2 linked regions of the Homo sapiens genome follow. The protein of the gene in region 1 interacts with the protein of each later gene in a pairwise test. Each region holds a gene or a part of one and is shown on either strand. Other genes may lie near its edges.

Region 1 (6,270 bases):
TGGAAAGGAGGTGGTTTGATAGCTTCCTGAGGGGAAGTTTGAGTGCAAAGGGAACATGCCTTAGTAATATATTTCAGATTGGCAGCCATGGCAGAAGAATGTATATAATTTTCTAAAAGCTGGAGTAGGGGCAGTAAGCAGCATGGAAATGGTTGTGCACATATGAAAGTACAGAAGGTTTTTTAAACTTGGACAAGACACTTTATCACTGAGATCAAACAATTTTTTCCTGAATGGCACCAGCCCGGGCAAGTGGGGTTCATTCCTTCTGGGTATATACAGGAAAAAATGAGCAATAACGATGGGGTTTTAAGGGCTGCCTGCCAGGCTGCCAAATTTGTTGAAAGGTTTCTCTCGGTTATGGCATCTTTAGACTTTCGGCACCCCTTGCAATGGATAATGGTGGCCTTTGGTGGTAGTTTATCCACCCCCAGCAGCTTATGTATAAGTTTGCCATTTCTTATGGGAGTTCCTTTTGTAGTTAGGAAACCCTGTTCCTGCCAGATGAAGGCATGAGACTGTAGGACATGGTATGCATATTTGGAATGGGTGTAAATGTTGACCCTCTTTCCCTTTGCTAGGGTGAGGGCCCTGGTTAGGGCAACTAGCTTAGGCTGTTGAGAGGTAGCATGGGGTGGCAGAGCATTGGATTCTAGGAGTTTATTTTCAGCAATGATGGAATAGCCAGCTGCTGGACATGGCTCCCTAAAAGAGCTTCCATTAACTAACCGTGTATGTGTTCCCTGCAAAGGGGCATGTGAAATGTGTTGGAAGGAGGAGGAGAGGGAGTCTAAGAGGTCCAGACAGGAGTGAGAGAGCCTAGAATCGGAAGTGTTTACAGGGAGGAGGGTGGCTGGGTTGAGAGTTTTATATCTCTGGAAGGGGATTAGAGGGCTACCTAGGAATAAGGCATGTACCTGTTATAAGCAGGATGGTAGGAGGGATAGAAGGGATTGATGGTTTATGAGGTCCTGTAGGTAATGGGAAGATGCAATAGTAATGTGTTGGTAAAGAGGGAGTTTCCGTGCCTCTAAGGCCAGCGATGTGGCCACAGCCAAGATTTTTAGTCAGAGTGACCAGCCTTGGTCACACAAAACAACAGAGTCCAGTTGTTTTGAGAGAAGTGCAGTGGCTTGTGTGGCGTTGCCGTATGTTTGGCAGAGTAGTCCAAGGGCAAGGCCCTGGTCAGAATGTACATACAAAGTAACGGGCTTGGTGAGGTTGGGCAGTCCCTGTGCCAGGGCCATTAAAAGGGCATTTTTAAGTTTTTAAGTGGGAGTTGATGGGGCAAGCTGGGTTTAGGGGTTTTAGGATGGGCCCATGTGAGGCCCTGTTTAGTGGCTTGGCCAGCAAGTCAAAATTGGGAACTGACAGCCAGAAGTAACCCACAAGGCCCGAGAAGGAGAGAAGGTACTTTTTTGTGTGAGGAAAGGGCATGTCCCAAATTAGCTCCTTTCATTGGGTTGGGATGGCTCGAGAATTAGGGGTTAGGACAAACCCAAGGTAAGTAACTTTGGTTTGGGCTACCTGAAATATTGTGGGCTAGGCCCAAACTTTGGTTTGGGCTACCTGAGATTTCCTCTATTATGGAGGAAGTTTAAAACCTAAGTGGTGTGTTGGATGGACAGGTTAAGGAAGGGGCTACAGAGAAGGAGTTTGACATGTTGCAGGAGGGTGCTAGCAGCAAGGGAAAGTTCACCTAGGTCCTTGATGAGGGCAAGTCTGAATAGGTGGGGGCTATCCTGGAACCCCTGTAAGAGTACAGTCCACTCTAGTTGGGTGCACATGTGAGTATTAGGACTTGACCAAGTTAAAGCAAAAAGACTTCTGTAAGCCGGATTTAAGGGAATGGTGAAATAGGCATCTTTCAGTTCCAATACAGAGGAGTGTGTAGTAGATTTAGGAATATGGGAGAGTAGAGCATATTGGTTGAGGACCACTAGATGTATTGGTACCACTGCCTGGTCAACAACTTGGAGATCCTGGACAAAGGGGTAAGTCCCGTCTGTCTTTTGGAAAGCCAGAATAGGGGTGTTCTGGGGAGAGTTAACAGGCTTGAGAATATGAGCTTGTTAAAGTTTACAAATAATAGGTTTGAGGCCCCTAAGCACGGCTGGATTAAGGGGATATTGAGACTGAAAAAAGAAAATGGAGGAGTTTTGAAAGGTTATTTTAACTGGGATGTGATGTGTGGCTATTGTGGGTTTAGAAACATTCCAAGCTTTAGAATTAACAGAAGGTAACAGGGTGGATAATGAGGATGAGTAGGGGGAGAGGGAAGCGTTTGGGTGTCGGAGTAAAATAAAAGGGGTAGAATTGTAGGAGCCGCATTGCATGGAGGCCTGGAATTTACTTAATATGTCCCACCCCAAGATAGGGGTAGGGGACTGAGGGATAACCAGGAAACAGTGGGTGAAGGGGGCTGTTGAATAGGTTGCATAATAAAGGACGAGTCTGTGCCTAGAGGGGATTTTATTGATTCTCACAATAGAGATCGAAGAACAGAAAAAGGGTCTAGAATATTCTGGTAAAACCGAGTAACTAGTTGTCGTATTGAGTATCCAATAGGAAAGACATGGACTTACTAGAGACTGACAGAATTACCCTGGGTTCCGAGGTGGTGATGGCAGTAGGGGTGGTGGACTCTAGGCCCCACCTGTCTTCAGGTACAGGTGGTGAAGCTAGATGAAGAGTTTCACTGAGCACAGTCTGACTTCCAGTGTTGCTTGATATCACAGATGGGGCAAGGCTTCCAGAGTGTCACGGGATTAGGCCAGGCTTTTGCTCAGTGTCCCTGTTGGATGCACTTATAACAGGCTCCTGGAGTTGACTGTTGCCAAGTTGAGGAATTCTGTATGCCTTGGGAACCCTGTTGAGTGGCAGCTATCAGCATTTGATATTTAGCCTGGCCCTTTTTTAGGTTTGGGTTTTTTAGTTCTTCCTCTCTAATCTTATAGACCTTAAAGGCCACTTTGATTAAGTCTCTTTGGAGGTTTGAGGGCCATCCTCCACTTTTTAAAGTTTTTTTTCAAATGTCTGGGGCTGACTGGGAGATAAAGTGTAAATGGAGGTAGATTTTGCCCTTAATGGTATTAGGGCTTAAGGTGGCATATTTAGTTGTGACCTTTGAAAAGGCGGGAGAGGAAAAGAGCAGGGGCGACTTTATTTATGCCAGCTAGAAGGCATGATATCATATGGCCTGGTTTCTGCCTGTCTACAGAAGTTGCCTGATAATTCCGATTGAGGTCAGTTCTGGGGACAGCTAGGGTCCCTACTGGGTTATGAGCAGCATCTTGTTGGTGGAGGGTGTTCTCATGGACCTGGGCACCCGTAAATATGTGTTCCCTGTCCTCCAGGGTGAGGGTAGAGGAGAGGATGACATATATGTCATGCCAGGTAAGGTCATAAGATTTAGGGAAGTACAGACATTCCTTGAGGAAGGAGGTAGGATCCATTGAAAAGGAGCAAAGTCTCTTTTCAGTATGGGAGAAGTCAGCTAGGGAACTTGAATTCAGATTATGCCTTCAGTCCTTGCAACCTCCTGCAAGGGAAAGACTTTGGAAGGCCTTTGGGCATGTGTCTGGTTTTCGGCAAAAGAGCGTTGGGCGTGAGACCTGGTTTGAGGTGGAGAAGGAAGGGGGATGGAGGGTGACAGTAAGGGGGTGGAGGAGCCGGATCCGAAGGAGAAGGTGGAGGGAATGGGAGAGGGCAGGAGCCAGACGAAGGGGTTTGTTGGCCAGGTTGAAATTCAGAGGAGGAAGGCTTGTCCCGAGGAGGAGGCATTTTGGGGGGTTTCTCCTTGAGGAGGAAGATTTGAAAAGGTGAACAAGATTGGCAGGAGAGTGAGTGAGGCATGAGCGGAGATAAGCAAAGCACTTCAGATCATTTACCATTGTGTTGGAGAAAGATTTTTAGATGATGTTGAATTTGAAAGTTGAATGTTTTGTTTTTTAGAAGAGGGGAGTGAATACTCTGGATGGGAGTGAATACTCTGGGGAAAGTGAGTACCCCAGAAGGGAGTGAATACCCCAGAGGGGAGTGAGTTCTCCAGAGGGAAGTGAATACCCCAGAGGAAAGTGAGTACTGGATTCCACCTGGGAGAAGGGACCTGGAGAGTTGGGACAGCCCCATAGCTATTCATGCTCCCCAGAGGACGGAGCGGCCAGAATGGCAAGTGTTCTGAGGCTGTCCCCTGAGAAGGGAGGCTGCAGTCACCTGGTGACTGGGGAGACCTCTCACCCAGCACTGGAATTTTTTTGGAGAACAAGCAGAAATAGAAAGGAATCCAGAAAGGAAGAATAGGGAGACTCACCCACGAATTGAAGCCCAGTGTTGGATGTGATGTCCAGCAATGGGGGTGATCCTGGTTGCAGCTGCTTGGGAAGGGGAAGGAAGGAAAAATAAGATGGAGAGTTTGATCAATATCTGGAGGTTAGTCCAGGGCTGGAGAAGATGAGAGAATAGGGGAAACAGGACTGGGAACAGACAGTCCACTCAGGATCTGGAAGTAGGCCCCGGTCTAGTTTGTGCTGCTTGCTGCTTTCTGCTTTCCAGGTTGCAAGAGAAAACTTACCCATTAGAACCCAATCACCGTCCTGGGTTTTGGCACCAAAGTGTTAGGTTTTGAAGGGAAGATGAGGGTGAAAGAAAGACAGACAGAGAGGGTGCATCTCAAACAACAACACAGGAATATTGCAGACACCTGTGGAAGTGGGGGACCAGCTTAATGCCAGAGCCCACTGCCGCTTATAGCCTGGGGTACTTACAGGTATGGGTGGGAGGGAGCTGGGCAGTATGGCTTGCTGCCCAGGAGGATATTGATAAGATGTTCTTATGATCAGGTGGTTTGGCCCTTTTTCCAGTGGAATATCATTGTGGTGTTCCTTTGCAGCTGCCTGGAAAGGGGAATGAAGGAAAAATAAGATGGAGAGTTTAATCAATATCTGGAGGTTAGCCCAGGGCTGGAGAAGATGAAAGAATAAGGGGAACAGGACTTATGATAGGGATGTTTCTTTAGTTGAGCCTTTGTCCACCTTGTGGTCAGGTGGTTAGGCAGGATGTTGCTCATGGCCTGAACCCCCATGGAATGTTTCACTTTGACCAAGGTCTGCAACATAGCAAAAACTTACAAAATCATGCAGTTTGGACTAACAGGTGACTCTACCCATGCTCCTCTTCTTCTTCTGCATAGATACCTACCCTATGATTTCACCTTGTTCTTCTCTGGCACACACCCCTTCCTCCACCTGCATTCCTTCTCATAAAGCCCCCCTTGCTATCTAGTCTCTATCCTATTCACCCAAAATAATGTCTTTCTGGCCTCTCCCTATTTTCTTACCAGATGCAAGAGGTACCAAACAGAGTCTTAGCCCCCGAACAGAGTTTGAAGAACACAAAAACATCAGAATATCCAATAATATTTGTGTATTACCTCAGGAAGGGTAAGAAAATAAATTCAAATCAACTGGAGAATGAACAGTCCCAAGAGAACTCCATCAATCCAATCCAAAAGGAGGAGGACGAAGGCGTAGACTTATCTGAAGGATCTTCAAATGAGGATGAAGACCTAGGCCCATGTGAAGGACCTTCAAAGGAGGACAAAGATCTAGACTCATCTGAAGGATCCTCACAGGAGGATGAAGACCTAGGCTTATCTGAAGGATCTTCACAGGACAGTGGGGAGGATTAGTCACACATGGAGAAACCAAATTGGACAAATCATCACCACTGATGGCGATGATTACAATAAAATCAAGTTTAAGGAGCTGATGACTGTGTTTATCTCTGCCTGTTGTCTGGTGTGGGGTGGGGAAGGGAAGGGAAGAGGTAGGCATTTGAGAAGGGAGGGATATGAGGTCCTGTAGGTTGGGAGACGGACCCACAGGTTGACAGTTAGCCAGACATTGCAAATAAGGACTGGCGGAGGACTGATTCCTCAGACAAATTTTCTTCTTAAAATTTTGTCTTACAGGAGAGGAAGAAAAGGACATGGTGTTTCTTGGAGCATGTGATTGTGTAGAAGGGTGTACAAAAAGATCTGTATTCGCTGGGCATGGTGGCTCATGCCTCTAATCCCAGCACTTTGGGAGGCTGAGACTGGCAGTCACCTGAGGTCAGGAGTTTGAGACCAGCATGGGCCAACATGGTGAACCCCTGTCTCTACTAAAAAATATATAAAAATTAGCCAGGCATGGTGTCAGGCACCTGTAATCCCAGCTACTTGAAGGCCAAGGCAGGAGAATCGCTTGAACCCAGGAGGTGGAAGTTGCA
Region 2 (7,029 bases), on another chromosome or scaffold:
GGAGGCCAAGGCAGGTGGATCACCTGAGGTCAAGAGATCAAGACCATCCTGGCCAACATGGTGAAACGCCATCTCTACTAAAGATACAAAAATCAGCTGGGTGTGGTGGCGCACACCTGTAGTCCCAGCTACTCAGGAGGCTGAGGCAGGAGAATCACTTGAACCCGGGAGGCAGAGGTTGCAGTGAGCCAAGATTGTGCCACTGTACTCCAGCCTGACGATAGAATGAGACTCCATCTCAAAAAAAAAAAAAAAGGCCATACAGCTTTTGGAAAAGACATCTTAAAATAATGTATAAAAAGCACTAGTTATAAATATTTGACTATATCAAAATTAAGAGATTGCACCACTGCATTCCAGCCTGGACGACAGAGCGAGACTCAGACTCAAAAATAAATAAATAAATAAATAACAAATGTGGATTGTGGAAACGAAAATACCAAACTGGATTGTTCATAATAGCCAAAATATGGAAACAACCCAAATGTCCACAACAGTGGATTGCTTAAATGATGGCATAGTCAAATATAATGGAATATAATCAGAAAACAGAAGTTAATACACTGGAGCTATATGCAACAACAGAAAGGAATCTGAAAAACATAATGGTGAGCAAAAGCAGTCACACAATGAACTGTACATGTACAAACCCTCAACAGATGAATTTTATGGTATGTAAGCTGTATCTTTTTTTTTTTTTTTTTGACAGTGTCTCACTCTGTTGCCCAGGCTGGAGTGCAGTGGCATGATCTCGACTCACTGCAACTTCTGCTTCCCGAGTTCAAGCGATTCTCCTGCCTCAGTCTCCCGAGTAGCTGGGATTATAGGCATCTGCCATGATGCCCAGCTAATTTTTGTATTTTTAGTAGAGATGGAGTTTCACCATGTTGGCCAGGCTAGTCTCAAACTCCTGACCTCAGGTGGTCCACCTGCCTCGGCCTCCCAAAGTGCTGGGATTACAGGTGTGAGCCACCGTGCCCGGCCTGTAAACTATATCTTAATAAAGATGTTTTTTAAAGAGTCAGTCATAAAAGAATAAATGCTTTCAGGTTCTGTTTATATGAAATTCAAAAATACGCAAGATAAACTATATTGTTTAAGGATACAAAGTTAGTTGATAACACCACAGGGAGAGCAAGGAGGTGAACACTTATAAAGTGAAGGGAGCTCTGGGGCAGGGAGAAGACTGTCTCGGGAGGGGGCAGGCTCCCTTTCTTGAAATGGCTGGTGATTCCACAGGACTGACTCAGGGACTCGGTAAGCTGTTTATGTTTTATTCTGTCCTCTACATATATTTCATAATACAAAGGTGATGATAATAATAATAAAACTATAAACTACTAAAAGACAAAAGTGTGACTAGTTACAAGAGCTTCAGTAGGAAATAAAGTAAGTTGCAAGTTAAACAAATATTTGTTTGTTCTGCTCATCTGTACCTGTATTTGTAAGTTTTACTCCTGGCTCTTGCAGAGGCTTTATGCCACTCTTTTGGAATCACACAGTGTGAAGTGAAAGTGAAGTAGGGCGAGCTGGCATGCAGCCTGGCCTTCTCTATTTCTTCAAGTTCTTTTATGGAATGTCGTTTTCCTACAGGAAGATAAAAAATCGAAATCAACACTCTTCAAGAACTCCAGTTGCTCTTGAAGGAGTGAGAAATCACTGGACAATTAGCAGTCTCAAAAAAATGAGGCCCAGTGATCACAAAGCACCTGTCTCACACTGAAGACCAGTTCTCCTCTCTTCATCCACCTCTTGCTGTCTTTGAAACAGAGGATCAACAAATGGTGGGACTGTAACCTACAAGAGAAATGAGACTCTTTGAGTACCAGAGTGCAGTCTGTATTAAGCTTTTAAAATGTGTCCCACATAAAGATGGGAACAATAGACCCTGAGGACTACAAGAGTGGGAAGGGCAGGAGGGGGCGAGGGTTGAAAAACGACCTATTCGGGACTCTGCTTACTACCAGGGTGACAGATTCAATTGCACCCCAACCTCAGCACCCCAACCTCGTACCCCAATATACCCGTGTAACAAACCTGTATGTGTACCCCCGAATCTAAAAGTTGAAATTTAAATAAATAAAATCTGACCTAAACATTCAAGTATGCCCTTACTGTATACCAAAGCAGCTGAGAAGAAAGGCCCCAGAATGTGCCAATCTACACCTCAGATGAGGATGTCGTACAGAGCCTTAAATGGCTGAACTGAGGGAGGGAGGGCCGCCCAGATAGAAGAGACGCACTTCTGTTAAGCGCTCTACTGTGTCATTGCATCAGCCAGTAAATATTTGTGTTGCCATTGTGTGCCACATCCAGGCTAGATCCTGTCTTCAAGGATCTCCTGGTCTAGACAGCCTAGTCATCCAGTGACAATCCAGTCCTGAGAGGGGCCCTCTCAGGATCCTGTAGGAGCAGGGGCAGTGCTAACTTAGCCTGGGAGGACGCATGCCTCCTAGGGAAGCTGACAACTGGTCCGTAAGGGCCTGTGAGAACAGAGGGTCAGGTGACCAGAGCTATGAGTTTGTGTCAAAGGGTAGGGACATACAGAAGTATTTTTTCTTCCCGCTCCTGATAAGCCTTAGACAGAGGGACTATTTTTCCCCTCCATTTCCCCCACAGCACTCATCCCAGTGCTGGACTGAAGTGCTAGGTAAACAATTACTGAATAAACTAGGCAACATAATATGTACTGCCTCCAGCACCCCAGATGCTGACATTCTACCCAGAACCAGAAGAATCTGTTCATCTTCATATGACTGACCTGGCTTGGTTTTCTGGGAGAAGCAAAAGAAACCACTTCCATCTTCAGAGCCATACATATTTTTTAAAAAATTAACAGTCATATCAGGTGGCTACTTCTGCTGCATGGGAGCGAAAAACTGAAACCTACATTTCTCCATTTTAACTCCTGTATTGGCAGTTTAAAAATCTGAAGACTCATTATAACCTCAAGTATTAGCTCTCCCGGGCAGCCTGTGCTGACATCCTTCCTGTATCTCCAGTAGAAAGGAGTGTTCCCTCCCACGTCCCATAATCCCTGTGCTGACTTCTGTGACACTCGCCACGCTCCACTGCACAAGCTGTCCACACCTCTCTCTCTCCTTCTTGTGCTTCAAGTTTGCTGAATGTGAGTAAATGAATGAACAAATGATCACACGTATCCATGCCTTGTGCACAGTGTAAATTCCACAGGAGTCTAAATTACTTTGAGTTCCTATTCTAAAACTCAAAGGAAATGCTTTTGTAGATTTTTTTTTAATAAATAGACAATAACTACAAGACTTCTAAAATGACTAGGTTTTCCCCCACTCCAGAGCTCCTAAGAATAAAAAACCAAAGAAACCTGCTCTACCTTTCCATAATTTGGTTTCTTTTTCTTCATATAAAAGGATCGTAGGCCGGGCACAGTGGCTCACACCTGTGATCCCAGCACTTTGGGAAGCCAAGGCAGGTAAATCACCTGAGGTCAGGAGCTCAAGACCAGCCTGACCAACATGGCGAAACCCCATCTCTACTAAAAATACAAACAATTAGCCAGGCATGGTGGCACATGCCTGTAATCCCAGCTACCTGGCAGGCTAAGGCAGGAGAACTGCTTGAACCCCGGAGGCAGAAGTTGCAGTAAGCCAAGATCACACCATTGTACTCCAGCTTGGGCAACAAGAGCGAAACTCTGTCTCAAAGAAAAATTTAAAAAAATTTAAAAAGGGATTGTATACTTCAGGATTATAATGGTCTTCACATATAATTTCCTTCAGATATAAAATATACTTAAGGGAAAAATCACTAGATACAAACTGTTTTGCAAGATTCATATTATAAAAGCCAAATACTGCATTTCATTTTTATATAAAAGCATAGCTTCAAAGGGTTGGAAGAAACTGCTGAAGTAGTTTGGACTGCAATGAGACTCCACCACCTTCTGGGAGAAGTAATCATCTAGCTTTAGTCTAAAGTCATCCATGGGCCTTTCAGAACTTTCTGCTCCATGAGGCAGGTACTTTTTTTGGTAATTTTAACCTCAAGAAAGTCCGTCCTTAGGTTGAGTTTAAATCTGCCTTGTAACTTGCAGGTACAGACACTAGTTCTACACATCTAATTCATCGGCTAATGTCGGCCTTTAAAATACTTAAAAGGTTCATTCCCCCTCGTGTCATTTCCTTGGGCCAAATACCCCACCTCTTTCCAGTTTTCTTCCTATAAAGTGGTGTCAAGACTCAACTCTTTTCTAAAGGTTTTGCAACTGATGAGGGTCCCTTCAACAGTGTGACATCAGGAATGACAGGTTAAGGACAGGATAGACCAAGACTCTGATGCTTCCCACTCTAAGCACAGCCTCTCTTGCCTGAGAGATGTATGTTTTCTTGGAATCCAGCTCATATGGTTGATTCACAACGACTTTACTGACATTTAAAATTACTTGGACTTCAACACATGCCATTTCTAAGATCTTCCTCCCTATACCCATGAAATCACATTTCTGGACACAAATATAAGACTTTGCACTTTGGAGATCTGGATTCAATCTTGAGCTCTGCCCCTTAAGAGTGTGTAGGAAAAAGTATTTAAGGTAAATATTCAGAAATTGTGCTCAGTAAATATACTTAAATGTTCTAATATTTCAGCTAACCTACTCTAGGGTCTCACTGTCACTCAGGATGGACTGCAGTGACACGATCATGGCTCACTGCAACCTCCGCCTCCCAGGCTCAAGTGATCCTCCCACCTCAACCTCCCAAGTAGCTGGGACTACAAGTGCACAGAACCACACCTGGGCTTTTTTTTTTTTTGTACAGACGGGTTTTTGCCATGTTGCCCAGGCTGGTCTTGAACTCCTGGACTCAAGCAATCCATCCACCTCAGCCTCCCAAAGTGCTGGGATTACAGGGGTGACCCACTGCACCCAGCCACTACTCTAGATATCTACTAGATATGTGGGGGTAAGAAAGATCCAGTAGTGCACACCTAAAGCTAACAGATTTGTATTTGATACTGCAAATAGAGAGACCCAAATTCTGAGAGCTGACCTCAAAATAAAAAAAAATCTCTAAATTAAGAAACCAAATTTTTGTAAAGCCAAACTGTAGAACAGAGTATAGAAACTGTTAGTCCTAATACCTACTGGTTGGCTAAGTCAGCCATGCAATACCATTCTCCTCTGCCCACTTCCTACTAGAGAGATGAGAAAGCCACAGTGGCTTTCCAGGCCCTGCTTATGGCTAGGACTTGCTTCATGACCCAGTCCTGGCCAATGAGACCTAAGGGAAAGTTGGCTAGGGGCCTCTGGGGACTCTTTTTGCTTCCTGCAAAGGAGTAGGGTAAGAGAAGAGGCCCCTGGCACCATTCCTTACCCCTTCCTCCTGCCCTGAATGAAGACCTAATGTCTGGAGCTATAAGCAACCATCAGGCAAATGTGAGAATGATGGGGATAAACTGAAAATACTAAGGATAGCAGAACAGAATAGGAAAAAACCTGACATTGTTATGCTGTCAGAACCCACCACGAGACCACCTACCTCTTAATTTCTTGTGAAGTAAATGCCCTTATGGTTTAAGCCACAGTAACTCCATTAACGTCTACATAAAAATCATTCCTGATAAATCTAGTTCCAAATCAACACTCCTATCCCCTCCAACCTCAGGCTTAAGAATGCAATACGTGTGTTACAATTCAATGAACTCATCTTAAATATAAAAATAAGCTGGAAACTATTTGTATAACCAGTGAAATTGTTAGACCAACTCTTCAAATTATACTCTATTTGAAAAATAAAACATCAGTACCATTTTATGTCTGTGCTGTAAATAATATTCAACATTCTCGTTTCATTTTAAGCTCTTTATATGAAATTACTTTTTCCATAATTCTCTGCTGAAGAGGCTCTGCAACATTTTCAACCCATTTTTTATGTAACATCTCTTTTCTTCTTTCCTTAAAAGTATCCACATGCTGAAAATACATATCCAATCTCTAGTGAAGTGATACAAAAAAGGAAAATAAATTATAAAGAAATGTTTCATTTACTATCATTCGAGTAAGGGGGAAAAAAAAATTTGTTCTCTCTACTAAGCTCTCAGCCACATTCGGGTTGCAAAGTCCCAGTATAAGATAACTGAAGCACAGAATAAAGTGCAGTAAGAGAAGCTGGGAACACAGAGCAGAAGAACTCATATAAACTTCTAAACCATAACTGTGCCTTCAGATTTAACCACATCTAACTCATGAATCAGATTAAGCTATTCCTAACTCATGAAACTCTTGTTTCTTTTTCAGGATTTCCAAGCATTCCCTGGTCACCCACTCTGTGTCTAGCCTTCACCATCAGGAAAGTCTGGGACAAAACTGGTAGAGTAGAAAGCGCACTAGACTTTGACACCTCTCTCTGGCCTGTGAAAGAGAGGTAATCCCATCTACCTCTTTGGATGCTTAAATGGGAATTTATGTGCACTTTCTTTACACATTGTAAATCACAATTCAAATGTCAAAGTTTTATTCTTTTTTGTTTAAAAGACAGGGTCTCACTCTGTCACCCAGGCTGGAGTATAGTGGCATGATCACAGTTCACTACAGCCCCAACCTCCTGAGCTCAAGCAATCCTCCTGCCTCAGCCTCCTGAGTAGCTGGGACTACAGGCGTGTGCCACCATGTCTGGCTAATTTTTTAATTTTTTTGTAGTGACAGGGCCTCACTATGTTGCCCAGGCTGGTCTCAAACTCTCAAACTCCTGGTTTCAAGCAATACTCTTGCTTCAGCCTCCCAAAGTATTATTATAACTCCGTCTCTCTCATTGAAATTAAATGCCCCTTAAGCTAATTTCGTAGTGACTATCAGTTACTGATTGGTCATAACCCTTAAAAGCTTATTTTGTTTCTAGTGGTTTTACTGCAATGTGGGAACATATGAGAAAGAGGCAAGTGTGAGTAGGAAAGAATTTCTATTCGGTACCAGGACGAAGAGAAGGAGCAATTGGAACAACTTCTCAGATCCCTTCAGGACAGATCCAAGTGGGATCAGGGACCTTTTAGTGA

The links. The genes of interacting proteins can lie anywhere in the genome.
Region 2: the proteins of SPANXN3 (region 1) and FAM228A interact in binary tests that used the Homo sapiens proteins (3 or more experiments, as listed by UniProt).

Annotation. Positions count from the first base shown.
Region 1 is NC_000023.11:143,508,234-143,514,503, reverse strand, and holds the end of SPANXN3 (sperm protein associated with the nucleus on the X chromosome N3), read left to right. Parts: intron 1-5,341; coding exon 5,342-5,689; 3' UTR 5,690-5,769; downstream 5,770-6,270.
Region 2 is NC_000002.12:24,178,053-24,185,081, reverse strand, and holds part of FAM228A (protein FAM228A), read right to left. Parts: intron 1,798-7,029; coding exon 1,710-1,797; intron 1,588-1,709; coding exon 1,437-1,587; intron 1-1,436.